Linked DNA regions of Homo sapiens. The protein of the gene in region 1 binds, or shares a complex with, the protein of each later gene. Each region holds a gene or a part of one and is shown in the gene's direction. Other genes may lie near its edges.

What was found.
Region 2: SMARCA4 (region 1) and SMARCD1 share a complex: the UniProt entries of both Homo sapiens proteins name them as parts of the BAF complex.
Region 3: SMARCA4 (region 1) and DPF3 share a complex: the UniProt entries of both Homo sapiens proteins name them as parts of the BAF complex.
Region 4: SMARCA4 (region 1) and SMARCC2 share a complex: the UniProt entries of both Homo sapiens proteins name them as parts of the BAF complex.

The regions. Positions count from the first base shown.
Region 1 is NC_000019.10:10,964,013-10,971,034, forward strand, and holds part of SMARCA4 (SWI/SNF-related matrix-associated actin-dependent regulator of chromatin subfamily A member 4), read left to right. Parts: intron 1-7,022. UniProt on the Homo sapiens protein: ATPase involved in transcriptional activation and repression of select genes by chromatin remodeling (alteration of DNA-nucleosome topology).
Region 2 is NC_000012.12:50,080,982-50,088,344, forward strand, and holds the start of SMARCD1 (SWI/SNF-related matrix-associated actin-dependent regulator of chromatin subfamily D member 1), read left to right. Parts: upstream 1-4,360; 5' UTR 4,361-4,388; coding exon 4,389-4,565; intron 4,566-5,179; coding exon 5,180-5,367; intron 5,368-5,639; coding exon 5,640-5,682; intron 5,683-5,774; coding exon 5,775-5,897; intron 5,898-6,381; coding exon 6,382-6,504; intron 6,505-7,363. Other genes in the region: ASIC1 (acid-sensing ion channel 1), read left to right, coding at 121-200, 279-383, 564-668. UniProt on the Homo sapiens protein: Involved in transcriptional activation and repression of select genes by chromatin remodeling (alteration of DNA-nucleosome topology).
Region 3 is NC_000014.9:72,891,100-72,898,373, reverse strand, and holds the start of DPF3 (zinc finger protein DPF3), read left to right. Parts: upstream 1-4,272; 5' UTR 4,273-4,285; coding exon 4,286-4,317; intron 4,318-5,724; exon of another isoform or gene 5,725-6,030; coding exon of another isoform or gene 6,031-6,227; intron 6,228-7,274. UniProt on the Homo sapiens protein: Belongs to the neuron-specific chromatin remodeling complex (nBAF complex).
Region 4 is NC_000012.12:56,165,481-56,172,502, reverse strand, and holds part of SMARCC2 (SWI/SNF complex subunit SMARCC2), read left to right. Parts: intron 1-12; coding exon 13-75; intron 76-565; coding exon 566-824; intron 825-1,070; coding exon 1,071-1,232; intron 1,233-2,294; coding exon 2,295-2,359; intron 2,360-2,591; coding exon 2,592-2,727; intron 2,728-2,807; coding exon 2,808-2,974; intron 2,975-4,308; coding exon 4,309-4,443; intron 4,444-6,803; coding exon 6,804-7,022. UniProt on the Homo sapiens protein: Involved in transcriptional activation and repression of select genes by chromatin remodeling (alteration of DNA-nucleosome topology).

The DNA.
Region 1 (7,022 bases):
GTGTCCAGCCCTTTAGGAGACGTAAATGTTGATCGTGCAGGCTTTTGAGCAGGGGAGGTGATGTCATCAGAATTGTGATATAGGGCAGTGCAGTGGTCTCTAAACTTCTTGTCAGTGAGGAGCATTCCAACATATGTGTATTTATTTACAATTTATTTGTGTACCTTTGCTTCTCCTTGGGAACCCTCAAAACACCAGGAGATAACCTTAGACCATTCCATGTTTTGGCTGTTTGTGGGAGGTGGGAGCATGGGAGGGACTAGGGTTTTGGGCAGATGTCTGGTGGAACTTTCTTTCTTTCTTTCTTTTTTTTTTGAGACGGAATCTTACTCTTGTTGCCCAGGCTGGAGTGCAATGGCACGATCTCGTCTCACTGCAACCTCTGCCTCCCGGGTTCAAGCGATTCTTCTGACTCAGCCTCCTGAGTAGCTGGGATCACAGGTGTGCACCACCACACCTGGCTAAGTTTTGTATTTTTAGTAGAGATGGGATTTCATCATGTTGGCCAAGCTGGTCTTGAACTCCTGACCTCAACTGATCCACCCACCTTGGCCCTTGGCCTCCCAAAGTACTGGGATTACAAGTATGAGCCACCGCGCCCGGCCTCTTTTTTTTTTTTTCTTATGAGACAGAGTCATTCTGTCGCCCAGGCTGGAGTGCAGTGGTGCGATCTTGACTCACTGCAACCTCCGCCTCCTGGTCTCAAGCGATTCTCATGCCTCAGCCTCTGGAGTGGATGGGACTAAGGACGTGCACCACCATGCCCAGCTAATTTTTGTATTTTAGTAGAGACCGGGTTTCACCATGTTGGCCAGAACTCCTGGTCTCGAACTCCTGGCCTCCTGTAATCTGCCCACCTCGGCCTCCCAAAGTGTTGGGATTATAGGCGTGAGCCACCGTGCCCAGCCAGTCTGGTGGAACTTTCTATCAGTAAGGAAACTGAGGCCTAGGGTTATTTTCTTTCCACAAGGGTTGTCAAGTCAACCACCTGGGTTTGACTCCTGGTTTTGTCTTTCCATCCCTCGGTCATCAAGGCTGCCATGGCACAGAAGGACCCATTCATGGTGCCTGTAGACAGAACACAATGTGAATAGTGCCCCCTGGAGTTGTGCAAGAAATGACCCAGCCACTCTTCCCCATTTATGTGGCGAACAAGCATGCATTGAGCGCCTGCCATGTGCCAGGCACTGCTGGGGAGCTGGGGATTCCATGGGGAACAGGCAGACAAGGGTCCTGTTCTTAGTAGCTCACACCCCACTCTTGACTTGCAAAGGGGGACAGTACTAGTACCCAGCTTGTAGGATTGCTGCAAGAGCTGAACAACCAGTGACAAATGCGAAGTGCTTAGAATGGTGCCTGGCACATAGTGCTAAACAGTTGTTAGTGCTCATCATTTATTAGGATTCCTGCAACAGCCTGGTGGGATGACACAGATAATATACTTTTTCCTCTAGTCATAAGTTCTGTATGTTTCAAAGTGGTAGCAAAGGAGTCAGCTCCTCCATTTTGTCCTTAATGGCTGCACATTGTTTAACAGCAGGGATGCATTCTGAGGAATGCGTTGTGAGATGATTTTGTGGTTGCGTGAAGATGATAGAGTGTGCTTACACACGTCTAGATGGTGGAGCCTAGTCCACATGTAGGCTCTGTGGTATAGCCTATTGTTCCCAGGCTATACACCTGTACAGCATGTCACTGTACCGATTATTGTAGGCAGTTGTGACCCGATAGTATTTGTGTATCTAAATATATCTAAACAGAAAACGTATGGGAAAAATACAGTATTATGATCTTTAAAAAATTTTTCTAATTAGACAATTCAAGGAGGAAGGTATAATCTTATGGGACTATTGTATATTTGGTCCATCATTGACCAAAATGTTATGTGGTGAAGAAAACCATGCTTTGAAATTTCACCATAAGGCATTGGAAAAGGGAGAGTGTGTTTAGTGGCATGGTTTTTTTTTTTTTTTTTTTTTTTTTTTTTGAGGTGAAGTTTCGCTCTTGTTGCCCAGGCTGGAGCACAATGATGCGGTCCTGGCTCACTGCAACATCCGACTGCAGAGTTCAAGCAATTCTCCTGCCTCAGCCTCCCGAGTAGCTGGGATTACAGGTGCCCGCCACCATGCCTGGCTAATTTTTTGTATATTTAGTAGAAACGGGGTTTCACCATGTTGACCAGGCTGGTCTTGAACTTCTGACCTCAGGTGACCCACCTGCCTCAGCCTCCCAAAGTGCTGGGATTACAGACGTGAGCTACCGCGCCCGGCCAGGTTTTTAAAAATATCAAATGTTCAGCCGAGTGTGGTGGCTCATGCCTGTAATTCCCACACTTTGGGAGGCCCAGCAGGGCAAATCACTTGATCCCAGGAATCCAAGACCAGCCTGGGCAGCATGGCGAAACCCCGTCTCTACAGAAAAGTTAAAAAATTAGCCAAGCATGGTGTTGCACACCTGTAGTCCCAGCTACTTGGGAGGTTGACGTGGGAGGATCAAGCCGAGGAGGTGGAGGCTGCAGTAAGCTGTGATCGCACCACTGCACTCCAACCTGGGTGACACAACAAGACCCTATCTTAAAAAAGCCGGGGGTTGGGCTGGGCGCGGTGGCTCATGCCTGTATTCCTAGCACTTTGGGAGCCGAGGCGGGCGGATCGCCTGAGCTCAGGAGTTCAAGACCAGCCTGGGCAACATTGTGAAACCCCGTCTCTACGAAAATACAAAAGAAATTAGCTGGGCATGGTGGTGTGCGCCTGTAGTCCTAGCTACTTGTGAGACTGAGGCAGGAGAATTGCTTGAACCCGGGAGGCCAAGGTTGCAGGGAGCCGAGATCGTGCCGCTGCACTCCAGCCTGGGCGACAGAGCAAGACTACGTCTCTACAAAAGAAAAAAAAAAAGCCGGGGGTTGGGAAGGATAACAGCTGCTGGAATACTGGGGGAAGGTATGAGAGGGAACAGGTCAGAATGAAGCCTGAGGCTGAATGGAGCTTCAGGTGCTGCCACCCTCATAGGTGTCAACCCTAAGGAGACATAGCGGACTCATTAGTATGCCCAGTGATTTCTTGATTGAAGTTTTCTGTTAACTGCATCCTAAGGACATTAATCATTAATTTTTCAGGGTGTGGGATTGATGGGCATGTGATTTGTGGCCTCAACTCTTCTTCATATATGGGAAAGGGCCTGGATGGAAGTGCCAGGTGTAGCTGGGTTTGTTGTTACAGGGCAGAGAGAAGGGACACATTGATTTCCCTCCAATTCCCTCAGGGAAGGGGGCTTTCTTGTTTTTATTTTATTTTATTTTATTTTATTTTTTGAAATGGAGTCTTGCTCTCTCTCTGTCGCCCAGGCTGGAGTGCAGTGGCACGATCTCAGCTCACTGCAAGCTCCCCCTTCCGGGTTCACGCCATTCTCCTGCCTCAGCCTCCTGAGTAGCTGGGACTACAGGCGCCCGCCACCACGCCCGGCTAATTTTTTGTATTTTTAGTAGAGACGGGGTTTCACCATGTTAGCCAGGATGGTCTTGATCTCCTGACCTCGTTATCCGTCTGCCTCAGCCTCCCAAACTGCTGGGATTACAGGCGTGAGCCACTGCGCCCGACTGGAAGGGGGCTTTCTTTAGAAAATAGGTAAATGTTAGTAGGGTGGAAACCAACCCTGGCCCCTTTCAAATGTGTGGTTTTTTTTTTTTTTTTTGGAGACAGTTGTACTCTTTTCTCCCAGGCTGGAGTGCAGCGGTGTGATCTCGGCTCACTGCAACCTCTGCCTTCCAGGTTCAAGCAATTCTCCTACCTCAGCCTCCTGAGTAGCTGGGATTACAGGCGTGCGCCACCATGCCCGGCTAATTTTGTATTTTTTTTTAATTTTTATTTATTTATTTATTTTTTTGAGACGGAGTCTTGCTTAGTTGCCCAGGCTGGAGTGCAATGGCACGATCTTGGCTCACTGCAATCTCCGCCTCCCGGGTTCATGCCATTCTCCTGCCTCAGCCTCCCGAGTAGCTGAGACTACAGGCGCCCACCACCATGCCCTGCGGGGGTTTCACCATGTTAGCCAGGATGGTCTTGATCTCCTGACCTCATGATCCGCCCGCCTCAGCCTCCCAAAGTGCTGGGATTACAGGCGTGAGCCACTGCGCCCGGCCAGTAATTTTGTATTTTTAGTAGAGACGGGGTTTCTCCGTGTTGGTCAGGCTGGTCTCAAACTTCTGACCTCAGGTGATCCGCCTGCCTTGGCCTTCCAAACTGCTGAGATTACAGGCATGAGCCACCACTCCTGGCCTCAAATGTTTTTTTAAGTCCCAGACTGGTTTCCAGAGCTTTGCTTTTGGGGACTCTGTTACCTCCCTAAAGGGGCATAGCTTCATTTATGTATGTGGACACTTGTCACTGTGAACCGTTTTGCTCTGTGTGCAGCCAGCTGTGAGTGTGATAGAGTAGCACGGGCCCCGTTTTTAATAGTGATCGACTTTAAAATGGTTCTTTGAGGAGGTGTTTTTTTTTTCTTTCCACTTTTTATTTTTTTAGAGACGGAGACTCGCTGTGTTACTTAGGCTGGTCTTTAACTCCTGGACTCAAGTGATCCTCCAGCCTCCACTTCCTGACTAGCTGTGATTACAGGCGTGATCCACTGTGCTAGCTCTTGGGAGTTTTTTAAGTTTTCTCTTTGCCACTGGCAAGTCACGCCCCAGTGGCTCAGGAAGCAGGTGGCTGATGTGACAGTTGCTGCTCACCTGTTCCAGTGGGAGACTTGAGGGGGAGGGTCTGCTGTGTGCGACCCATCTTGCTCCGAAAGTCCCAGTAAAGGGGCATAGTGGATGTCTCATTGTGCCCAGGGAGCTGAAACTGCCCCTGTGATGATCAAATGTGATTCTGGCACAGCCTGGACTGGCTGGGCACCTGAAGGCCTTGCCTGCCTCCTGGAGGCATCTCCTGGGTGCCTGTGGGAGTGGCTCTTTACTTGCCCTTCCTCTTGACTCTGCCCTTCCTCGACCTTCAAGGTTCTCATCCTATTCCTTTTGATCCTCGGCCTGAATCAGTTACTCAGGCCCTGGAGTCAAAGAGACTTGAGGCGGGATTCTGTTCTGCATGGCTTAACCTCTTTGAACTCAGAATTCCGTTTTCCTCTCAGAATCTCCCTGGCCTCCACCCTCTACCTCAAGAACCAGGGGCTGAACCCCGGCCCTGCCTGTCTTTGCCAAGCCTTGCTCTAGGGCTTGGTCAGCCTCGAGGAAGGGGGGCCTTGTTATGTTTATTTAAAAATTTATGTTTTAGGTTTTACTTTCTTAGAAGTGGAGGTCTTGATGTTATCTCCCAGGCTGGTCTTGAACCCCTTGGCTCAAAGGATCTGCCTACTTCAGCCTCCCAAAGTGCTGGGATTATGGGCGTGAGCCACCACGCCTGGCGCCTTTTTATATTTCTTTCTTTTTTTTTTCTTTTTTTGAGACAGAGTTTGTCTCTTGTTGCCCAGGCTGGAGTGCAATGGCGGGGTCTCGGCTCACTGAAACCTCCGCCTCCTGGGTTCAAGCGATTCTCCTGCCTCAGCCTCCCGAGTAGCTGGGATTACAGGCATGCACCACCACACCTGGCTAATTTTGTATTTTTAGTAGAGACGGGGTTTCTCCGTGTTGGTCAGGCTGGTCTCAAACTCCTGACCTCAGGTGATCCACCTGCCTCAGCCTCCCGAAGTGCTGGGATTACAGGCATGAGCCACTGCACCTGGCCCCCTTTTTATGTTTCTAACAGCACGTCCCAGCCGAGACCCTGGTGTTCACCCTTGCCTCATCTCTTGCCCTCACTTGCACATCCATTCCATCAGCATGTCCAGAGAAATTAAAGTCATTATCAGACCGTGCCACTCCCGTGCCTGGAACATTCTAGCAGCTCCCCACTGCACTGGATGCTCCTGGAACCCCTTTACTGTGGCCCTCAAGGCCTGTGACTTCTCCCCTATGCCCCACCTGTGGCCGCACCCACTTGCCCTCTGAGGTATGATATGGAATATATTTGGTCTTTGCGCCACATGTCATAGGAGTGATAGGTGTGTCTTTTAAAATTCATAATGAGCCCCTTTTGATCACAGCTGAGTTTATGCTTATGAGGTGATTTAGGATGGGGCTCCTAGATAGCCCAGGATGGGGCTGGTTACCAGAAAGACCAAGTGCTTAGAGGGTGGCATGTACGGAGGGGCCATTGAAGCTGTCTGTATTGCTTCCATCTGGTTGACCCCGAGTCGTATCCGTTATAATAAACCATTAATGGGAAGTGAAGTGCCTGCCTTAGTTCTGGGCGCTGCTTTAGCAAATCAATCAAATCGAGGAGGGGGTTGTGGGAATTCCCAATTTATAGGTGGCTGGGCAGAAGTACTGGACCCTGGGATGTGCAAATGGCATTTGTAGTGGGAGCAGTCTTATGGGACAGCTCTTTTTCTTTTAGAGACAGAGTGTCACTCTCACCCAGGCTGGAGTGCAGTGATACAGTCATAGCTCACTGCAGTGTCCAGCTCCTGGGCTCATGTCATGCTCCCGAGTAGCTGGGACTACAGGTGTGCACCACTGCCAGGCTTAGCTAATTTTTAAATTTTTTGTAGAGACAGGGTGCTATACTTCCTAGGCTGGTTTCAAACTCTTGGCCTCAAGCAGTCCTCCCACTTTGGCCTCCCAAAGCACTGTGCTTAGGTGAGCCCACTGCATCTGGCCGATAAAGTCCTTAACTTGTGGGAGATAGAGTCTGAATTGAGTTAAATTGTAGGACACCCAGCTGGTGTTTGGAGACTTGGAGAATTACTTGGAAAAGACCCACGCATCTGGTCACAGAATTGTTCTCGGTTATGAGAGTATAGTAGAAGAAAACTGGTTTTCTCTGAGTTGGTGTCAAAAGTGCTGTGTGAGAGTGTAGAGAAACGGAGTGTGGGCCAGGCACGGTGGCTCACGCCTGTAATCCCAGCATTTTGGGAGGCTGAGGCGGGTGGATCACCTGAGGTCGGGAGTTTGAGACCATCCTGACCAACATGGAGAAACCTAGTCTACT
Region 2 (7,363 bases), on another chromosome or scaffold:
CTTCTGTGCGAAGGCTACCAATCCCTTTGAGAATACAACTTGCCTGCCCCAGTCCCAGTAAACCCTGCTGCCCCCACGATGTCCTGACCCCACTGACCCCCCTGGCGCCTGCCCCCGCAGGTGACATCGGGGGCCAGATGGGGCTGTTCATCGGGGCCAGCATCCTCACGGTGCTGGAGCTCTTTGACTACGCCTACGAGGTAAGCGGGGGCGAGGCCCGGCACGGGGCCACGTGGGGGCGGGGTCCAGCCCGCCCACCTGCCCCGTCCCCGTCCTAGGTCATTAAGCACAAGCTGTGCCGACGAGGAAAATGCCAGAAGGAGGCCAAAAGGAGCAGTGCGGACAAGGGCGTGGCCCTCAGCCTGGACGACGTCAAAAGACACGTGAGGGAGCGAGCGAGGGCGCCCTCCAGCCCGCCTGTGCCTCCACCGCCCCAGGAACCCCGTCCACCCCCGCCCACCCGCCTCTGCCACCACCTTCTCTCCTTTGCCTCCCGAATGCCCCAGCACTACCTGAAGCCCTTCCGAGGGATAACCCGTCCCTGTCCTGTCCCCTTCCCCCAGAACCCGTGCGAGAGCCTTCGGGGCCACCCTGCCGGGATGACATACGCTGCCAACATCCTACCTCACCATCCGGCCCGAGGCACGTTCGAGGACTTTACCTGCTGAGCCCCGCAGGCCGCTGAACCAAAGGCCTAGATGGGGAGGACTAGGAGAGCGAGGGGGCCCCCAGCTGCCTCCTCACATCTGCCCTGGGGACTCCCCACACTCCGGGGCAGATCTTTCCTCTTGTCTGTGGTAAGGAAGGAGTCTTGACCATAGAGTCCTCTCTCTGCCTCTATCCCATTCTTTTTACATTTAACAAAACTAATCTAAAAAAGAACTAAAAAGGGAGAACGGGGCAAGGGACCTCAGGCTGCCCCTCTCTCCTCCATGCTGCCTCCCCTAGCTCCCAGCCTGAATTCTGTCTATCTAGCTGTCTGCCATCTGAGTGTCCATCTACATTCTGCTGCCACCAGTCACCAAAGGCCCTTCCCAGTGAGGGGTGGAAGGGATCTCTGGGGTCTGGAATTTGGCCCCAAACCAGAGAATGTACCTTAAGGGGGAGGGCTAGTGTGGGGGAGGGAGGCTTCCCCAGCCTTAAGAGACCCTCTCAGCCCAGTGACTGTCCCCAAACCCAAGTCTCCTGGCAGGAACTAAAACCTCAGCCCCACTCTCTCACACCATGTGGAATCTCGTGGGGGTCGGGGATCCCCTTAAGAAGTGGTAATGGGGACAAGATGCGGCCCTGGTGCTGTAGGCTACATCCTGATACCTATAAGTTCACCCCCACCCCACAGCTGCTGGAGAGAAATCCCAAGAGGCAGCCCTTCCTCACCATCCCATTAAAGACCGGGCTGGTTAGCGTCCAGCTCAGGGAGAAGGGCGCTAGTGCCTAACCTCACTGGTCCCTCTCCCGGAGGCCCTTGTAGAGGGCCACGTCCATAAATTTTCTTATGGAACTCTCCCACATCCTCTTCCCCAACTTCATTTGCTTCTCTCAACAACCTCATCTGCATTTTCTATTTCTATATGATACAGACTCTATATTGCTATATCTCTGTATATACTTTCCCAGCCCTGTCTGTCTCCACCCCATCCCCTCTTGTCTCTGAGAACCATTCTCCCACCCCAAGTTCCACCTTCTATGTTTCTACTCCCTCCCTGGTCTCTGAATGCCTTCGCCTGTATAAAGAGTTGGACTCTCTCCCCTGGTGTCTGTACTGTGTACACACATCCCTCTGAGAAGCACAAGGAGACGACACGCGCATTGTAACCTTTGCACTGTCTCAGTGGCGACAAAGGAAGCTGTGAATCACAAGCTCTGCCTCTTTCTGGCCTCACCCTCTCCCCCAACCCGGGCACCCTCGGCCCTCCCTGCAGCCTTAACATTCTCTTCCCCTGCTCCTCCTATCCCATTGCCCTCTGCCCAGCTGACAGTGGCATCCCCAGGGAAGGGGTTGCTGTAGAGATAGCCCCCACCCAGGGGATGGAGGTCTACCCTGGACACTAAGCCAAGTGTGTCAGAGACAGAAGGGAGCTGGGGATTGGCGACTCCTGAAGTTGGGGCAGTGGGATGCTGACAGGCAGAAGCTGAGGTCCTCAGTCAGTGGCCTTTCCTCCTTCTGGGTGCCCAGCCCCCTTTCCTCACCTGATACCCAAGCCCACCACTTTTATTTTCTGGTGAGGTGGGTTTGGGAGGAAAGAGAGGCCTAGAGGAGGAGTTGAAAGCTCTGCTGTTGTCTCACCCTATCTTAATGAGAGACAAGTGAGGTGGAGGGCCTGCCCCCCCTCCCTCCACCAGACACTCCTTCCAGGCCTGAGCCCCAACCCCTCTTCAGGCCTTCCTTCCCTAGCTGTGTCTTGGTCTTCAATCCCAGAACAGGACCTGTGAGCAGCTGCATTGGCCTGGAGCTGGAGAGTAAGGCTGTAGGATCTTTGGAATCTCTTGGTTCCTAAGAGTTTCCTCAGAGATCATACCTCCCCAGAGGGAAGCAGGAATGAGGCCAAAAAGTGTGCATTGGATAGGGGAACAGCAGGCAGGGCTCTGGGTGACGCATGCCTCTGGTCTAATAAACTGGGTTTCAACCATCTCCTCTTCAGTGTTGTTCTCTTATTTGAAAAAGTATTTAGATATTCTCACTAAGTGCCTAAAGCTGAGCTTGGTTTGGGGCCAATTAGGGGATGAGTAAGGAGAAGGTTTGAGTAGGGACACTGTGGTCCCCCTGGGATGGGACAGGCTGACCATTATATCAGGAATAGTTTGAACCACTGGGCAGGGAAAGAGGGAGAAGTCAAAGGCAACAAAGTTCCAAAACAGAATCCCCAATACAAAGGATGCTTTAGAGAGAGAGAGCAGAGTCAAAATTCAAGATAAACTGGAACTTATCATAAAATCTGGAAGCAGGCTGGCACGGTGGCTCATGCCCGTAATCCCAACACTTTGGGAGGCTGAGACAGGTGGATCACTTGCGGCCAGGAGTTCGAGATCAGCCTATGCAACATAGTGAAACCCCCATCCCTATTTTTTTTTTCTTTTTTGAGATGGAGTCTCGCTCTGTCGCCCAGGCTGGAGTGCAGTGGCGCGATCTCGGCTCACTGCAAGCTCCGCCTCCCGGGTTCACACCATTCCCCTGCCTCAGCCTCCCGAGTAGCTGGGACTACAGGCGCCCGCCACCACGCCCGGCTAATTTTTTTGTGTTTTTAGTAGAGACGGGGTTTCACCGTGTTAGCCAGGATGGTCTCGATCTCCTGACCTCATGATCCACCCGCCTGGGCCTCCCAAGTGCTGGGATTACAGGCATGAGCCACCGTGCCCAGCCCCCCATCCCTATTTTTTAATATTTAAAAAAAAAAAAATCTGAGGCCAGGCACAATGGCTCACACCTGTAATCCCAGCATTTTGGGAGGCTGAGGAGCACAGATCGCTTGAGCTCAGGAGTTCGAGACCAACCTGGGCAACATGGCGAAACCCCATCCCTACCAAAAATACAAAACAGTCTGGCATGGTGGTGCATGCCTGTGGTCCCAGCTACTTGGTAGGCTGAGTTGGGAGGATCACTTGAGCCTGGGAGGCGGAGGTTGCAGTGAGCTGAGATGGTGCCACTGCACTCCAGCTTGGGCGAGAGAGAGACAGACCTCATCTAAAAAAAAATAAAAAATAAAAAATAATAATCCGGAAGCAGGTTAGGTCAGAGAGAAAGTTAGGATGAAGTTCCCACGTGAGGTACTTATTGAGGCACTTTATCTGTGGAATGAGTCCCGGGCTATGAGCAAGGGTATCTGGAATCTTGGCTTCGGCTTTATGGCTAACTTGCTGGTTGACCTTTGCCAAGTCATTCACCTGTGAGTTCAGCTTTCCCATTTGTAAAATGGAATAAACTGTGTTTCCCTCCTCAGCCCCTGATAGTTATAGCAGTAAGAAAACGAAACGAAAAGCAGTCAAAGCGTTTTGGAAAGTTAACGCCATGCGCCAAGATGAAGCTATTACTCCAAGCCCCTCTTCATCAGAGGGCTCGAGTTGGGGTTGAGACTGGGGCTGAGGCTGTGGTCCGTCCCCCTTTCCAGGTCCTTGTCTTCCTCCCGTCGGCCTGGGGGCGCCCGCTCACGCGGCCTCTCTATTGCAGAGCTCTTCTCTATGGTTTTCCCTCCCGGACCGTGAAGGCGGGAGGGCGTGGCCAGCACGCCTTTTCCGCTAGTCGCCCCGCTCTATCCCATAGTCTCGCTGCCCTGAGCCTCCCGTGCCGGCCGGCCGGCCGGGGGAACAGGCGGGCGCTCGGGGGGCGCTCGGGGGGCGGGGGGAGTTCCGGTTCCGGTTCTTTGTGCGGCTGCATCGGCGGCTCCGGGAAGATGGCGGCCCGGGCGGGTTTCCAGTCTGTGGCTCCAAGCGGCGGCGCCGGAGCCTCAGGAGGGGCGGGCGCGGCTGCTGCCTTGGGCCCGGGCGGAACTCCGGGGCCTCCTGTGCGAATGGGCCCGGCTCCGGGTCAAGGGCTGTACCGCTCCCCGATGCCCGGAGCGGCCTATCCGGTGAGTGGGGCAGGAGGAGGGGCGCGCGGGCCGGGGGCGGGGCCGAGCGGGGACATGGGAGTGACAGGGGTGGGGGGAGAAGTAGGAGGGACTCCCTTGGGAGGGGTTCGGGCTCTGGGTGGGGGTTGGGGGAGGCAGTGCGCAGAAAGAGAGGGGGAGGCAGTTACACACCTGCTCCTAGGGGCATTGTTTCCCTGGGGAGTCGGTAGAGAACCTGGGTGGGTGAAGTGGGTCCAGGGATACCTGTATGAGGGCCGGAGTGCAAAGGGGCTTGAGCAGCTCCAGTGATCAGAGGAACACAGAACGTGTAGCTGACAAATTGAGGTCAGCTTCTAAAGAGATAGTAGCTAGCAGAGTAAATGTGGAACTGGCGATGTCCGATGTGTCCCATCCAAAATAGACTGAGAATTTGAGTATAATCTGGCTCTCGCTTAGCTTTTGGACTCTGTTTTTCTATGGAGTCACTACTGGAGCAAAGGGTTCTCCTCTCATTGTCCTCCATTCCATCCCTAAACCTTACTTCATTCAAAGATCTCAGGCGTTCCCTGCTTTTCTTTCTTGATGGGGTTTAGCAGGTGAAACCATGACATCTCTGGGTCCTCTCCCCTCTGTAGAGACCAGGTATGTTGCCAGGCAGCCGAATGACACCTCAGGGACCTTCCATGGGACCCCCTGGCTATGGGGGGAACCCTTCAGTCCGACCTGGCCTGGCCCAGTCAGGGATGGATCAGTCCCGCAAGAGACCTGCCCCTCAGCAGATCCAGCAGGTCCAGCAGCAGGCGGTCCAAAATCGAAACCACAAGTAAGATGATCCTGGGGCAGAGGGAGGGAGGGAGGGAGCCTGGGAGGACACAGGTGGTGGGAGTACCTGAACCAAGAAGTGGTGGTGCTGTGTCAGCAGATGGTGCTACAGAACTCATCCTTGAGAATGCTTGGTGGTGGTGGTGGTGGTGGTAGTTCTTTGAGAGAAGCTTTGCAGTCCCTTCACATTACTATAAATGGACGTGCTGACAGCTTATTTTCACGTTCTGACTAGTTCTGTCCCAACCTGATAATAGTATTTATTCCCAACAGTGCAAAGAAAAAGAAGATGGCTGACAAAATTCTACCTCAAAGGGTGAGTCCAGGCTATATGTCTTCTGGAAAGTGTGGTGAGTTTGAGTATAGAGATGATCATCCTAGATTTCAATTAATTTTTCTGTTCCTAAGATTCGTGAACTGGTACCAGAATCCCAGGCCTATATGGATCTCTTGGCTTTTGAAAGGAAACTGGACCAGACTATCATGAGGAAACGGCTAGATATCCAAGAGGCCTTGAAACGTCCCATCAAGGTAACACAGGAAAGTACTAGGCAGAGAGCCAAAGGAGAGGACCCAGGAACCTTCAGCAGAATTAGGATGAGAAATCAAAGGCACAGCACAACTCTCCTTGGCATTTAAATTGCATCTCTCCCTTCCGCCTACAAACTGAGAATTACATTAGGAGGATAAGAACAGAATGGCAAAGGGGGAGGGGCTCTTGATGTCTCTTGCACTACAAATATACCCTTGTCCATGTTTTCGCTGTAACTGCTCTGCTACCTTGGGAACCTGGCACCTTGCATGACTTTGTCCACCTGGCATCCCACTATATGCACTTGTACTTAGGCTGATGGCCAGTACTCCTCTTCTAAATGGAATCTTCATCCACCCACCCAAGGGACTGGGTAGACAGTAAGCCAGTCTGTTAGGAGTAATTTTGGGGTTTGGGGAGACCGTTGTCTTCAACATCAGACCACTGAAGCCCCACGATCAATCCTGTTTCTGCCTTCCTCAGCAAAAACGGAAGCTGCGAATTTTCATTTCTAACACTTTCAATCCGGCTAAGTCAGATGCCGAGGATGGGGAAGGGACGGTGGCTTCCTGGGAGCTTCGGGTAGAAGGACGGCTCCTGGAGGATGTGAGTTCAAGGTCCACAATGGTTGGCATCTAGGGTGGGAGCTGCTGGGAATGAACAGTGTTGTCTGGTCAGCAGGAAGCCTAACTGGTGCTCACAGCTCCTTTTGGGAGCAGTAAGGAGAGGGACACTGTTCCCTGCACTGAAAGACAGTGGTCCTTTGTGTTTGCCCCCACACCTTTGGCCCTCACTGGTATCATATGGAGAACCTTATTGTCCTGGGATCTGATTTGTGGTTTACCTTCCTCTTGGTGCTGCTGGCCATTGGATTTAGCCATATCTGTAGATTATTTAGTTTTTTTTTTTTAATCGAGTTTGCACTTAATTTGAGGCTGTGTTTCCTCTCTGAGTCCTTGTGGTATCTCCATCTTCTCAACTTTCACTGGAGGCACCCCACAGTTTAAGTAGGATAGATTTCTCTTGACAGGCTCTTTGTTGCTTCCTGGGGAGCATCAGCTGACAGGTGATAGTCCCCAAACTTCCCACCCCAGAAGCTCCTCGGGGAAGCTCACCTTTCTCTCATTCCCTTACATTCTCTGGCTCTTATTTTTAGCTGCTCGCAGGCAAGCTAGTTGGAATGCACTTTTGCAGGAGAACCAGGGCTCAGTGTCAGAGCCTCCTTCTCTATATAGGTCCGGTCCATCTGCTGGTGGTGTCATTCTGTCCAAATAAAGCTGTTTTTGTTCTGGCTGCTTATTGCCTGTGATTCATTTCCCCTCTAGAGTCAGACTTTTCTCTGTTCAAACTCGCTTAGTTATGTGCAATGGTTTGCTTAACTTGCCTCATTTCCCTTGGGCAAATGAGATGGGTAAAACAGTGACCCTCTATGTGTTCTAGGCTGCTTCTTCAGGGTTCTGTTGCT
Region 3 (7,274 bases), on another chromosome or scaffold:
TTTGGGAGGCCGAGGTGGGTGGATCACCTGAGGTCAGCAGTTCGACACCAGCCTGGCCAACATGGTGAAACCCTGTCTCTACTAAAAATACAAAAATTAGCTGGGCGTGGTGGCAGGTGCCTGTAATCCCAGCTACTTGGGAGGCTGAGACAGGAGAATCGCTTGAACCCGGGAGGCAAAGGTTGTGGTAAGCCGAGATCGGATCACTGTACTCCAGCCTCAAAAAATAAAATAAATAATTAAGAAAAAGAGAGATGGATGTCCTTTTGGCTTAGGTTCTTGGGTCCTTGGTTGTGCCCAGTGTTCCTTCAAACGGATGGCATTCAACAAATACTTGAGCTGGGCCAGGGAGTTTCACTCACTGACATCAAGGGTGAGTTAATATGGTTGAGAATGGTCCCCACACTTCTTTCCCTGGTGACACACACTTCTTATATGTTTTTATTGTACAGTGCAAAAAGGCAGATCTCTTCATTTTATTGTACAGTGCAACACTGTACAATAAAAATACAATGCCATCCACATGTACAATTTAAAATTTCCTAGTGGCCACATTAAAAAAAAGTAAAAAGAAATAGGTGAAATTAGTCTTCATAACATATTTTCTTTAATCCAGTAAATCCAAAATATCATTTCAACAAATGATCAATGTAAAAATTATAATGAGATATTTTACCTTCTATTTGTCCTAAGTCTTTGAAATCAGGTGCATTGTTTTATACTTACAGCGCATCTCAATTGGGAGTAGCCACATTTCAAGTGCTCAGTAGTCACCTGTGGCCCATGGCTCCTATATTGGACAGTGAAGCTCAACATTCTCCAGGTGAGATGTGGAGGTGATTATTCTGGGGCCACTCTGCTCTCCAAATTAAGCTGCCTAACTAGCTAAATCAAGATAAAAGGGATAGAATACAATGAAGTGTATTCAAATATATGAATAGCTATGGAGCTTTAGAAATGGGATTTTAGGCTATGGGTGCGGTAGTTCATGCCTGTGATCCCAGAACTTTTGGAGGCTGAGGTGGGAGGATCATATGAGTCCAGGAGTTTGAGATCAGTCTGGGCAACATAGTGTTACCTGGTCTCTACAAAAAATTAAAAAATGAACTGAGTATGGTGGTTTGTCCTGTGGTCTCAGCTACTTGGGAGGTTGAAGTGGGAGGATCACTTGACCCCAAGAGTTTGAGGCTGCAGTGAGTTATGTTGAGCTGTGTTTGCACCACTGCACTCCAGCCTGAGCAACAGAGCAAGACCCTGTCTGAAAACAATAACAACAACGACAAAAAACTCCAGGGCTTTGGGAGGCTGAGATGGGTGGATCACCTGAATTCAGAAGTTCGAGACCAGCCTGGCCAGCCTGGCCAACGTGGTGAAACCCTGTCTCTACTAAAAATACAAAAAATTAGCTGGACGTGGTGGTGGGCACCTGTAATCCCAGCTACTCGGGAGGCTGAGGCAGGAGAATCGCTTGAACCCGGGAGGTGGAGGTTGCAGTGAGCTGAGATCACACCACTGCACTCCAGCCTGGGCAACAAGAGTGAAACTCCGTCTCAGAAAAAAAAAAAAAATTTAAAAAGTGTTTTGGTATCACAATCAGCAAGAAGCCTTTTTTAGGGTTATATAGTTATGTGACCCCTCATTGAAACATCATTCTTATTTATTATTTTATTCTAATCCAAGTTGTCCATTTGCTCATTTTTCTTGGATTAATGAGTTTAGAAAACTAAATGTGATGGCTAATTTCACTTTCTGTTGTGCCTTGTTTTTTGGATTCCCTACATTCCATATGCCGTAAGGAAAGAATTAATTATCTCTGTAAGAAATAATAACATGGATTGAAAGCTTGCTGTGTGTCAGACACTTGACATGTATTACCTCATTTAATCCTGGCAAGTAAATATGCCCAAGGTAACCCAGCTGGTAAATAGTGGACTCAGGCTGGTAGATTCCAGAGCTCATACTTCTGCCATGTACAGCACTATGAAATTGCCCCAGAACTGCCAAACTTCTCCAAAACTGTTTAAGGATACTGTCCTCTTTAAACATGCCTACTCTTTGCTTTTGAACCTTCTGGTTAAAAAAAAAAAAAAAAAGAAATCTTTATATTTTGATCTATAATGTAAACATTAAAGTAAAATAACTCTTTTGTTAAATATAAGTGTTTCTTTAAAAGTCATAACTGTATTGATAGAGTTAAAATGACATTCCATTGGGTTACAAAAAGCAAGGCTATCCTTTTTTTTTTTTTAAAGTACTGTCTTTAATTCACTATTTTCCAATCCAATCAATAAATCTGATCTGACATTTTCAAGTTCGTTAGGTAGTTAGAGATTATGCTGGTTTCTGCATCCAGGCCTTAACACAATAAATGATATGTACATGCTTAGAGTATGTGTTTTCTTTAATATGTAATATACATTTGTTTTTTCTCTCTTCCCCCATTGTAAATCTTGTTCAGGACATGCTCTACATTTCCTCCTTTATCAGGCTGCATGTAAGAAAATACGTTGTCGTCTACTAATCTGAATTGTTGTGTCTTTGATACCTCAAAGAGGTTATTGGGAGTTCTAACTGATAATTCAAACTCATACTTCTTGGGTCAGAATACAGTTCTTGCTTTTCAATGATGTCAAGGCCCACCTCAGGCAAAGTATAGGCTTCTGAACCAATTTCTTGTCAAATTAGTAAAGAAGGGATTTTTCAAACTTCAATTTTGGAAAAGGAGATAACTTTTTCAAACTGTAATCTCTGCCAAGATGCTATGCAAAGGATTTACAAAGGAATCTATAGAACTCAATTCTGCTTCTTAAATACGCAGAGAGGAGTTAAAGATTTCAAATCTTTTAAAAACATAGTGATTCAGCCACGTTCTGTTTATCTGTAAATCTAATAGTGTATGTAGTTGAACTCTTAAAATTCTGGAATGTTTATTTTATTTTATTCATTGTCTTGAGAGGAGCAAAAGGAAGCGAGAGGGCATAGCTTTGAAGAACTGGCAATTTGGCAACTTCTCTCCCCTTGCCACCCCTCCCCCACTATCTTAGCTATTTGATCTGATTAAACAGCTTTGGAATGGTAGCCAGACTTCTGTATGCTAACGAGGCCCCTACCCTATTCGCGATTTAATGCGATTTCATCCCCCCAGAGCTTCCCGGTGCCCAGTGGAAGCCTGACTTCGCAGAAGTCTCCCAATTTTGTCAGGGGCTCGCCAGTGAAGAGTTCACACTGACTTGAAGCAGACACAGACTCATTGGACGCCTCGGGTCACATCGGATTATTCATTAGCAAATTCTTTCCACCTTCTATCTAAGTAGTGAAAGGTGACGCCAGAATCGCGTGTGCCACTCCTCTAAAGGGACCCTGATAACACCCAGTCCAGGCTCTACAACTTCTGCCTAGTCACTTGCTTCCTAGCAGTAGAAAGTTTCCAAAGGTTGCCTTAAGTCCTCCCTACCCCTAAGCCTAAAGATCAGAGCTCCAGGTCCCACCACCTAGCAGGAATCTGAGCATTTTGGAAGTTTCTGGTGTAGAGGGAAGAACCGAAGGGGTGGTAGCGGGGAACCGCGCAGAGTAACCCCCCTGCACTACGTAAGGAAAGCCCTGGCTGCAGGAGGGAGCGAGCCTGACATTGAGACGTTCCAGGGGGAGGGTGAGTTGCTGTCCTGGAGTCGCCAGGAACAGCAGCGACAGTTCCAAGAAGCGAGAGAGGAAGGTGGCCGAGATAAAGAGAACACTTCGGGAATAAGAATATTAAAAAGCGGCAGGACCCAGAGCATTAGCAAACGGCAGAGCACATGTAGTAATTTGTTAACACGAAACGGCAGCCTTCCAACTTTTGCACTGAAACACGGGGATTTACCCTTTGGGGGATTAAAAATGTTGATACGCAAAGCCAAAGGCTAATGAATAGGATTCAGTGGCTTGCTGGCAATATTTAAATATTTCTGTCCGGGAGCGCAAACTCTTCTGCAGTTATTTAGAAAAGTAGGGAGTTAAACCAAACTATAATACTCTCCCGTGCGTCTCCACTTTCCCCAGCCCGAAAAGGAGCTACCAGCGCTGTACTGCCCCTTTAAGACCTGCTGGCTCTCGGGCTCTACAAAAGGGAGTGACCTCTGGGCTTTGACAGCTCTCCTAATAACTACCACGGCGCAGGCCCCGCCCACCTAGCTACCAGCAGCGCCGATTGGCCGGCGGGCCGGTATCCCGCGCTGTGATTGGCCCGTCGCTTCCCCTGAGCGAACCTTTAGAACTCTGAGACAATATTCTGTTACATTGTAGCAAAATGGCGACTGTCATTCACAACCCCCTGAAAGCGTAAGTAAGACTAAAAAATGTACATATTCCGCGTGGTTTCAATATGAAAAAAAAGGCGCCTTCTGCGTGGCGAGCGCTGCCAGAGCATTGCGCTTGCAGGCGCCTCCAGCCGCGGCGGGGCTTCTCTCTTCTTTCAGCTCTTACTTCTTCATCTTCTTTTTTTCCCCCAACGCGCAGAAATGTCAGGAGATGCAATTAACAAGAAGAAAATTGTTACATTTGTGTTCTGCTAAATTGCAGAGAGAGCCAGATATAGGGGTTGCAGGCGGAGAAGCCCGGCGCTCGAGCGCTCTACAGCAGGAGGGTCGCGGGAGCTCGGGGACGGCGCGGTCCCCGGAGTCCCCCGCCTCGCGGGCAGGGAGCGCGGCTTCGGGGGCTGCTGGGCGGGGGGCGAGCGTCGGGCAGTGGCCGCCTCGGTGTACTTGGCCGAGCCCCGCGCCCCCGAGCCCGCGGCCCCCGCCCCGCCGCTGGGTCCGCTGGGTCCAGCGGACGGACCGCGGAGGCTCCGGAGTTTGCAGGGCGCTCTTCGCCTTCCGATCGCTCGCGGGGAGTTTGTGCAAACCTTCCGGAGTTGGAGCACCGCGGGGGAAGCAGCGGGTCCCGGGCGTGCTGGGGCCCAGGTGGTCGCCCCGGGCTTTCCCCGGCAGCCCCCGGATCTCGGAGGCGCTCCGGGCGATCGAGCGTGTGTCTGCTCGTGTATTTGCGAGCGAGCTGGCTTTAGTGGATTAACGACTCGGGTTAACTTGGGGTGGATTTGGAGGCAGGGAAGCCGCAGGTCTTATGAATGGTGTTCTCGCCACCTCTGGGTGAGGCGCTGAGGCAGGCGGAGAGGCGGTTTTGGGGCTCCTGGCCCGAGGGGGCAGCGTCTGCTCCCGGCCGGGCGAGGGGCAGGTGCCTCTGGCCGCCTCGGGGAGACTTTGAGCGCTTGCCCAGATCCTGGACAGAGTGGGGCGGGCCGGGCGAGGACTCGCGGGGGCCAGCCCCGGGTCCAACAGCCAATTTCTGCCTGCCTGCCTTCCTCCTCCTTTTCATCCTTCCTTCCTTCCTTCCTTCCTTCCTTCCTTCCTTCCTTCCTTCCTTCCTTCCTTCCTTCCTTCCTTCCTTCCTTCCTTCCAGTCAGTGGAACTGTTAAGCCGCCAAGTCCGCTCGCGATCGCGGAGCCAGGGGTGGCCTCGGAAAACTAGTGTCGCTCTGAAAGGGGTGCTATTGGGTGATGTCGGCAGAGGGTGGCTCCCTCCGTATCCGAGGTGGGCTGGGGGGTCCTCACCCCTTCGACCGGGACTTCCCCGCCCGGACGAAGCCGCAGGCGAAGTGGCAGAGGGAGGTGCAGGTCGGGTGGGGGGCGGTTCATGCCGAATTCTCCCTGGTGCGTGGCCGCTGTCGACCCTGGTTCTTTTAATTCAGCGCATTCTCGTCTTCACCCCTGGCCACTCCTGGAGTTGAAAACCAGGTTCGCTCCCGGGGACGGTAGGGGGTTCCTAACGCAAAGGAATGCACAGGGAGAATCGGACGTGTTTGCGCCAGCTCGTCGCCCATCAGAAATAGGGAAAGGGGTAGGAAGGCCCCAGGTTTCAAATATATTTATATGAAAGCTGCCGTTAAGAGGACGTTGGAAGCTGAGGCTGATCAGATAGGAGCTCCTGGCTTCAGTTCTGGCTCGGAAGCTCGGATACACTGCGCTTGAACGCCACAGCGTTTCACCCAAGAAAGAAAATGTTTTATGGCAGAATAAATGGGCGTAACTTCGCCGCATCCTCGCTGCCGGTTGCTTTCGCTGCAACACCGCTGATGCTGTTTCTACCGAACCCACAACTGATTTTCAGTTTCCCCATTTCCAGCCGAAATCACATAACCGGGCTGATGCCACCTGGTAAACTCAAGTTAGAGAACCTATTTCACATGTGCACCAGGTTTGTTTCCTCCTGGGAAAGCCGTACCCTAGTTACCCGGGAGCCCGCTTTCGCGCGGGCGGGCGCAGTATCTCTAAGCTTGTGTTCCCCTACTCGCTCCAGGGTTTTTTGGATCACAGTAGGGTGCGTGTTTGGGGAGGGAGTCTGTGTAGGGTGGGGTTAAGGGTGGGGGAAGGGACAGACGCGGGAAAGAAGGTGGCGGAATTCTGGCCGGTTAGTGGAATTAGTTCTGAATTGTACTTTGTATAATTAGAAACAGTTGCAACGTGATGTATTTGTAATTGTGTTGCCACCCACATGCAGACACTAGCATACACACAACGCCCCTGCTTGCTTTTTCTAGGTGGGAGTTGCTTGGTCATTTATAATTAGCTATTCCTTTCTGCTTCCCAGACCCTTTCCCTGTGAGTAAAGGGGTATAAACAATACCACTGACCAGCCCAGCCTCTCACACCCTGGACAGTTTTTGACAACTCCTAACGCAGGAGCACACACGTTGTTATTGGGAGAGGGACACCATCTGCCTTTATTTTTTTAAAAATAACTTGTTTAATAAAACATCTTATATATTTCATTTGTTTTTAAAAGTTGCTGATCAGGAAACAATACACACGTGAATAAATTATGCATGGGATAAATTAGAACAAAGTGCAGAGACACATCCAGCCGAAGGGATGGTGGTGGTGCAGGGAGGAGGGGTAGCGGGGAGAATGGTTTGGAGAGCTATGTTTTTATCCTCATGTGTCCCTCCTGACAATGAAACAGAGCTGAACGACATTAGCATTTTCTCTGTGTGCGTTCTGAGTCTCTCTCTTCCCTCCAAAAAAAAAAAAGCCAACACCACGGACGTCTCCTACAGAAAATGGTCACACAAAGGTTTCCTCAGGATGGGGGGATAAAGTGGTGGTAGTTAATGTGTTGGGAAGAAACAAGCTCAGATTTCCAGCAGCACCTATGCAGGGCTCTGCCTACGCTGAGTATGGGCTATTTTTCACTGTACTAGCTTTTTCCACGTGGGACATTCAATAATTCAATTAGCTGGGGTGA
Region 4 (7,022 bases), on another chromosome or scaffold:
TTTCCCCTGCAGAGCAAGGCTGCAGCCAGTGCCACTCGTGAGTGGACAGAACAGGAAACCCTGCTTCTCCTGGAGGTAATTGGGGCAAAGAAAAGAGAGTTTTTCTCTGAAAACAGAAGTGGGCTCCGTGTAGAGGCTCACGCCTGTAATCCCAGCACTTTGGGAGGCCAAGGCAGGAGGATCACTTGAGTCCAGGAGTTCGAGATGAACCTGGGCAACATAGTGAGACTCCGTCTCTACGAAAAATTTTAAAAATTAGCCAGGTGTGGTGGCACACACCTGTGGTCCCAGCTACTCAGGAGGCTAAGTGGGAGGATTGCTTGAGCCTAGGAGGTCAAGGCTCCAGTGAGCTTCAGGACCAGCTCCAGGCTGGGGATTTGGGCCATTTCATTAACTTCATATCCTTTCTTAGTGCTACTTCAAGATCCCCCTTGGACCTAGCAGAGTACACAAATACCAGAACATAGAGAACTTTGAAACCAGCTGCCCTTAGTAGGATGGGGGGAGTCAGCCTTCGAGAAAAGTGGCTAAGTAAGCGGAGTTATGTCTCCACCACTACCACCAGGCACTGGAAATGTACAAAGATGACTGGAACAAAGTGTCCGAGCATGTGGGAAGCCGCACACAGGACGAGTGCATCTTGCATTTTCTTCGTCTTCCCATTGAAGACCCATACCTGGAGGACTCAGAGGCCTCCCTAGGCCCCCTGGCCTACCAACCCATCCCCTTCAGTCAGTCGGGCAACCCTGTTATGAGCACTGTTGCCTTCCTGGCCTCTGTCGTCGATCCCCGAGTCGCCTCTGCTGCTGCAAAGTCAGCCCTAGGTAATGGGGGTGGGTGGTTCCACCTGGCCTTCTTAGTTTGCTTTTGAAGGGCTAGTTACTCAGACTGTGAATCCTCTCAAGTTTGGCTGCCCTGCTGGCCTTGTCTGTGCGGGCCTCAGCTCAGGCACCTGTCTAGGCTCCATACTAGCTTAGATGAAGACATGGGCTTGTGAGTAAGCTTTTGCAGGGATTGCCAGAACTGTTCCACTGTGCCGCTCCCAGCCTCATTCTTTCTGGGTCTTGCAGAGGAGTTCTCCAAAATGAAGGAAGAGGTACCCACGGCCTTGGTGGAGGCCCATGTTCGAAAAGTGGAAGAAGCAGCCAAAGTAACAGGCAAGGCGGACCCTGCCTTCGGTCTGGAAAGCAGTGGCATTGCAGGAACCACCTCTGATGAGCCTGAGCGGATTGGTAAGGCCAGGCAGGTTCCCAGATTTCTTGCCTTTCACAAGATCCAGAGCTACCTGGCCTCCTGTGCCATTTCTGCCTCAAGTTGGCATTAGAGCACAACATGAATGAGAACATTGGTAGGGTTTTTATTTTCCCCATGAGTTTACCTCAGGGGCTCTGGAGCCCTACTAGTCCTCTCATGAAGATTTTGGGTAGAAAAATCTTTGCTTGTAGAAGGGGCTGTTAGAAAAGTCTTGTGAAGGCCGGGCGCAGTGGCTCATGCCTGTAATCTCAGCACTTTGGGAGGCCGAGGTGGGTGGATCACGAGGTCGGGAGTTCAAGACCAGCCTGGCCAAGATGCTGAAACCCTGTCTCTACTAAATATACAAAAATTAGCTGGGCGTGGTGGCACGTGCCTGTAATCCCAGCTACTTCAGAGGCTGAGGCAGGAGAATCACTTAAACCTGGGTGCCAGAGGTTGCAGTGAGCCAAGATCAAGCCACTGCACTCCAGCCTGGGCAACAGAGCAAGACTTCGTCTCTCAAAAAAAAAAAAAAAAAAAAAAAAGTCTTGTGAAGGCTGGGTGCAGTGGCTCATGCCTGTAATCCCAGTACTTTGGGAGGCTGAGGTGGGCAGATGGTTTGAGACCAGTCTGGGCAACATGGCAAAATCCCGTCTCTACAAAAAATACCAAAAAAGTTAGCCAGGCATGGTGGCATGCGCCTGTAGCCCCAGATACACAGGAGGCTGAGGTGAGAGAACCACTTGAGCCTGGGAAGTCAAGGCTGCAGTGAGCCATGATTGTGCTACTGCACTCCAGCCTGGGCGACAAGAGTGAGACCCTGTCACAAAAAAACAAAAAACAAAAAAAAACAGGTGTTATGGAGAAGCTGGGTGCAACGGCTCACACCCATAGTCCAAGCTGCTCAGGAGGCTGAGGTGGGAGGATTGCGTGGGCCCAGGAGTTTGAGACCAACCTGGGCAACACAGCAAGACCCTGTCTCTAAAAAAAAAGAAAAGTGTTAGACACAGACGACTGTGTATTAAACATTTCCTGTTTTCTTTCTTTTCTCATGGGCCCAGAGGAGAGCGGGAATGACGAGGCTCGGGTGGAAGGCCAGGCCACAGATGAGAAGAAGGAGCCCAAGGTATAGAGGGATTTCTGGAAGCTGCAGGGGCTGCGTGCAGCACTGTGGTGATGGGGAAGTTGGCCTTGTTCAGCTTAGGTGGGCAAGGGCTGGTTTTGGACGGGGTTGTCTCCTAGAATCAGATCACCTCCAAAGTAAGAGGAATAAATTTAGTTCCCCGTCTGGCCCCTCTGTGTGAGAACTAATCACCCTAATCCCTGATAACTCTCCTTTTCTATCACTGGAATTTCAGGAACCCCGAGAAGGAGGGGGTGCTATAGAGGAGGAAGCAAAAGAGAAAACCAGCGAGGCTCCCAAGAAGGATGAGGAGAAAGGGAAAGAAGGCGACAGTGAGAAGGAGTCCGAGAAGAGTGATGGAGACCCAATAGGTGAGCCTCCCACAAGGGTAGGTGGGGGTGCAGGACAGAGGTGAAGCTGTGGGGCTAACTCAACCCTTGTCCTGGCCCAGTCGATCCTGAGAAGGAGAAGGAGCCAAAGGAAGGGCAGGAGGAAGTGCTGAAGGAAGTGGTGGAGTCTGAGGGGGAAAGGAAGACAAAGGTGGAGCGGGACATTGGCGAGGGCAACCTCTCCACCGCTGCTGCCGCCGCCCTGGCCGCCGCCGCAGTGAAAGCTAAGGTGAGGCCAGACCTTGAAGACCTCAGGGAAGAAAATGTCCACTTCTCTAATCTCATCTCACTTAGAGGAAATCTTTCCTCACTCACACCTTAAATAATGCTGACCTATTTATTTTTTATTTTTATCTCAGGAGGAGGTAAAGTTAGTCATCCCTTCTCTAAGCTTTAAAAAATATATCACCATTGGGCCTGTTTTCAACCCTGTCAGTATTTGACTCCATGTTACCCTTTGCCACACTATCTCCATGTTCTTCTTTTGAGACGGAGTCTTGCTCTGTCAGATCTCGGCTCACTGCAGCCTCCACCTCCCAAGTTCAAGTGATTCTCCTGCCTCAGCCTCCCGAGTAGCTGGGACTACAGGCGTGCTACACCACGCCTGGCTAACTCTTTGTATTTTTAGTAGAGATGGGGTTTCACCATGTTGGCCAGGCTGGTCTTGAACTCCTAACCTCAGGTGATCCACCCGCTTTGGCCTCCCAAACTGCTGGAATTACAGGCGTGAGCCACCGTGCCCAGCCTCCATGCTTGTTTATTTATTTATGTATTTTTTGAGATGGAGTCTCACTCTGTTGCCCAGGCTGGAGTGCAGTGGCACAATCTCGGCTCACTGCAACCTCCACCTCCCAGGTTCAAGCGATTCTCCCACCTCAGCCTCCCAAGTAGCTAGGATTACAGGCACGTGCCAGCATGCCCGGTTAATTTTTGTATTTTTAGCAGAGATGGGGTTTCACCCTGTTGCCCCAGGCTGGTCTCAAACTCCTGGACTCAAGTGATCTGCTCGCCTTAGCCTCCCAAAGCGCTGGGATTACAGGCATGAGCCATCACACCTGGCCAAAATAATTTAATTTTTTAAAAAGGCTGGGCGCAGTGGCTCACGCGTGTAATCCCAGGACTTTGGGAGGCTGAGGCAGGTGGATCACCTGAGGTTGTAAGTTTGAGACCAGCCTGGCCAACATGGTGAAACCCCATCTCTACTAAAAACACAGAAATTAGCCGGCGTGGTGGCGCATGTCTGTAATCCCAGGTACTGGGGAGGCAAAGGCACGAGAATTGCTTGAACCCAGGAGGTAGAGGTTACAGTGAGCTGAGATCATGCCACTGTACTCCAGCCTGGGCAACAGAGTGAGACTGTCCCAAAAAAAAAAAAAGAAAAAAGAAAAAAGACACGGTGGCTCACGCCTATAATCCCAGCACAAAAAAGTCAAGCCCTTTCACCATGGGTTGTGACCACAGCAAATTTGTTCTTATACCTGCCAGCATCCACCCTACCTTTCTTCTGTATTGTCTTCAGTTGGGTCCTCCCACTGATGTGCTGTCTCGCCCCTCCTTCCCTAGCACTTGGCTGCTGTTGAGGAAAGGAAGATCAAATCTTTGGTGGCCCTGCTGGTGGAGACCCAGATGAAAAAGTTGGAGATCAAACTTCGGCACTTTGAGGAGCTGGAGACTATCATGGACCGGGAGCGAGAAGCAGTGAGTAGCAGGAGCCCTGGAACCCTGCTGCGCTGTGCCTCAGTTTAAAATCGGAGGGGCGTGTGTGTGTGTGTGTGTGTGTGTGTGTGTGTGTGTGTGTGTGTGTGTTTCAGTGAAAGAGAGATAAGCAACAGTGGGGAAAGCCTGAGTGTGTGTGTGTGTGTGTGTGTTTCAGTGAAAGATAAGCAACAGTGGGGAAAGCCTGAGACAGACAGGGCTTCAAAGCAGAGCAGGGCAGGAACAGGGCAGGAGTAGGGCAGCCAGTTAGAGACAGTTAAGTGGTCTCACAAGTGAAGTCTGGGGACTGAAGTCCCACAGAAGGTCAGCTCCATGAGGCAGGGACTCTAGTTGGTTGTTTTGATTGCTGCATCTCCAGGTCCTTGAACAGTGCTTGGCCCATAGTAGACTCAAATAGTGATTGAGTGAATGGGCGTAACGGATGATGAGAGAGAGGGTAAGAGCCTCAGATCCAGGAGGTGAACTTGGAAAGGGAATGGGACCGACACAGTGTTGAACCATTTTGTCTTTGGAGGACATAAAAAGAAATAGACAATAGGGACTGGGCACAGTGGCCCACATTTGTAATCCTAGTACTTTGGTACACTGAGGCAGATGGATCACTTGAGCCCAGGAGTTCAAGACCAGCCTGGGTAACATAGTGAGATCTCTGTCTCAACAATTTATTTTATTTATTTATTTATTTATTTATTTGAGACAGAGTTTCGCTCTTGTTGCCCAGGCTGGAGTGCAATGGTGTGATCTTCGCTCACCACAACGTCCGCCTCCTGGGAAGCGATTCTCCTGCCTCAGCCTCCCCAGTAGCTGGGATTACAGGCATGTGCCACCATGCCCAGCTAATTTTGTATTTTTAGTAGAGATGGGGTTTCTCTATGTTGGTCAGGCTGGTCTCGAACTCCCGATCTCAGGTGATCAGCCCATCTCTGCTTCCCAAAGTGCCGGATTACAGGTGAGTCATCACGCTTTTTTTTTTTTTTTTGAGATGGAGTCTTACTCTTTCGCCCAGGCTGGAGTGCAGTGGTGCAATCACGGCTCACTGCAACCTCCGCCTCCTGGGTTCAAGCGATTCTCCTGCCTCACCTCCCGAGTAGCTGGGATTACAGGCACATGCCACCATGACCAGCTAATTTTTGTATTTTTAGTAGAGACAGGGTTTCACCATGTTGGCCAGGCTGGTCTCAAACTCCTGACCTCAGGTGATCCGCCCACCTCAGCCTCCCAAAGCGCTGGGATTTCAGGCATGAGCCACCGTGCCCAGCCCAAACATTTTTTAAAAATAAACAAATTAGCCGGGCGTGGTGGTGCGAGCCTGTGGTCCCAGCTACTCAGGAAGCTGAGGTGGGAGGATCGTTTGAGCCCAGGAGGTCAAGGCTGCACTGAGCCATGTTTGCCCCATTGCATTCCAGCCTGGGTGACAGAGTGAGACCCTATCTCAAAAAAAAAAAAAAGAAGAAAAAGAAATAGAAGATAGGGACCTCAGAGAACTTAAGGTTTAATGGGAGACATCAAATGAATATACAATATGGAGACATCAGAAACAGTTAAGAAGGTTTAAAGTATCTGACAAATTCACATTAAGAGATTGCACATCAGCCGGGCGCGGTGGCTCACACCTGTAATTCCAGCACTTTGGGAGGCTGAGGCAGGTGGATCACGAGATCAAGGAGATCGAGACCATCCTGGCTAACATGGTGAAACCCCGTCTCTACTAAAGAATAAAAAAATACAAAAAATTAGCCCGGCATGCTGGCACACACCTGTAATCCCAGCTACTCGGGAGGCTGAGGCAGGAGAATTGCTTGAACCGGGGAGGCGGAGGTTGCAGTGAGCTGAGATCACGCTACTGTACTCCAGCCTGGGTGACAGAGTGAGACTCAGTCTCAAAAAAATAAAGAGATTGCACATCAAGTTTCTAAGTCCTGAGATCATAGAATAAAGCTAAAGCTCAGAGGCAAATGAATTGATCTGGGATAGCTTCCTAAGAACAGTGACTTTTTAGTGAATTTTGAAGTAAGAAAAGAACTTGAATTGACAAAAGGAACTGGAAGCATTTTCCAAATCAAGGTAATGGCAAGTTCAAAGCTTTGTAGCTGAAGTGAGCTTGGGCCAGGTTAAAGTCATTGCAATAAGAAACCATGTGGGCACTCAGGAGACATAAAGGTCATGGGAATTTGCACGAAGTCGGGTGGGGAGGACAGAGGGAGCACAAGCACAAGATGTAGATTTTGGGAACCTTCTGATTGAGAGGCAGGCTCTTTCAGAAGAAGACAAAGCAGGGGTTGAGGCATTTGCCTTTGGGATCTGCTGAAAATTGGATAACAATACTCAATTGGCACTGGCAGCTGGAGTATCAGAGGCAGCAGCTCCTGGCCGACAGACAAGCCTTCCACATGGAGCAGCTGAAGTATGCGGAGATGAGGGCTCGGCAGCAGCACTTCCAACAGATGCACCAACAGCAGCAGCAGCCACCACCAGCCCTGCCCCCAGGCTCCCAGCCTATCCCCCCAACAGGGGCTGCTGGGCCACCCGCAGTCCATGGCTTGGCTGTGGCTCCAGCCTCT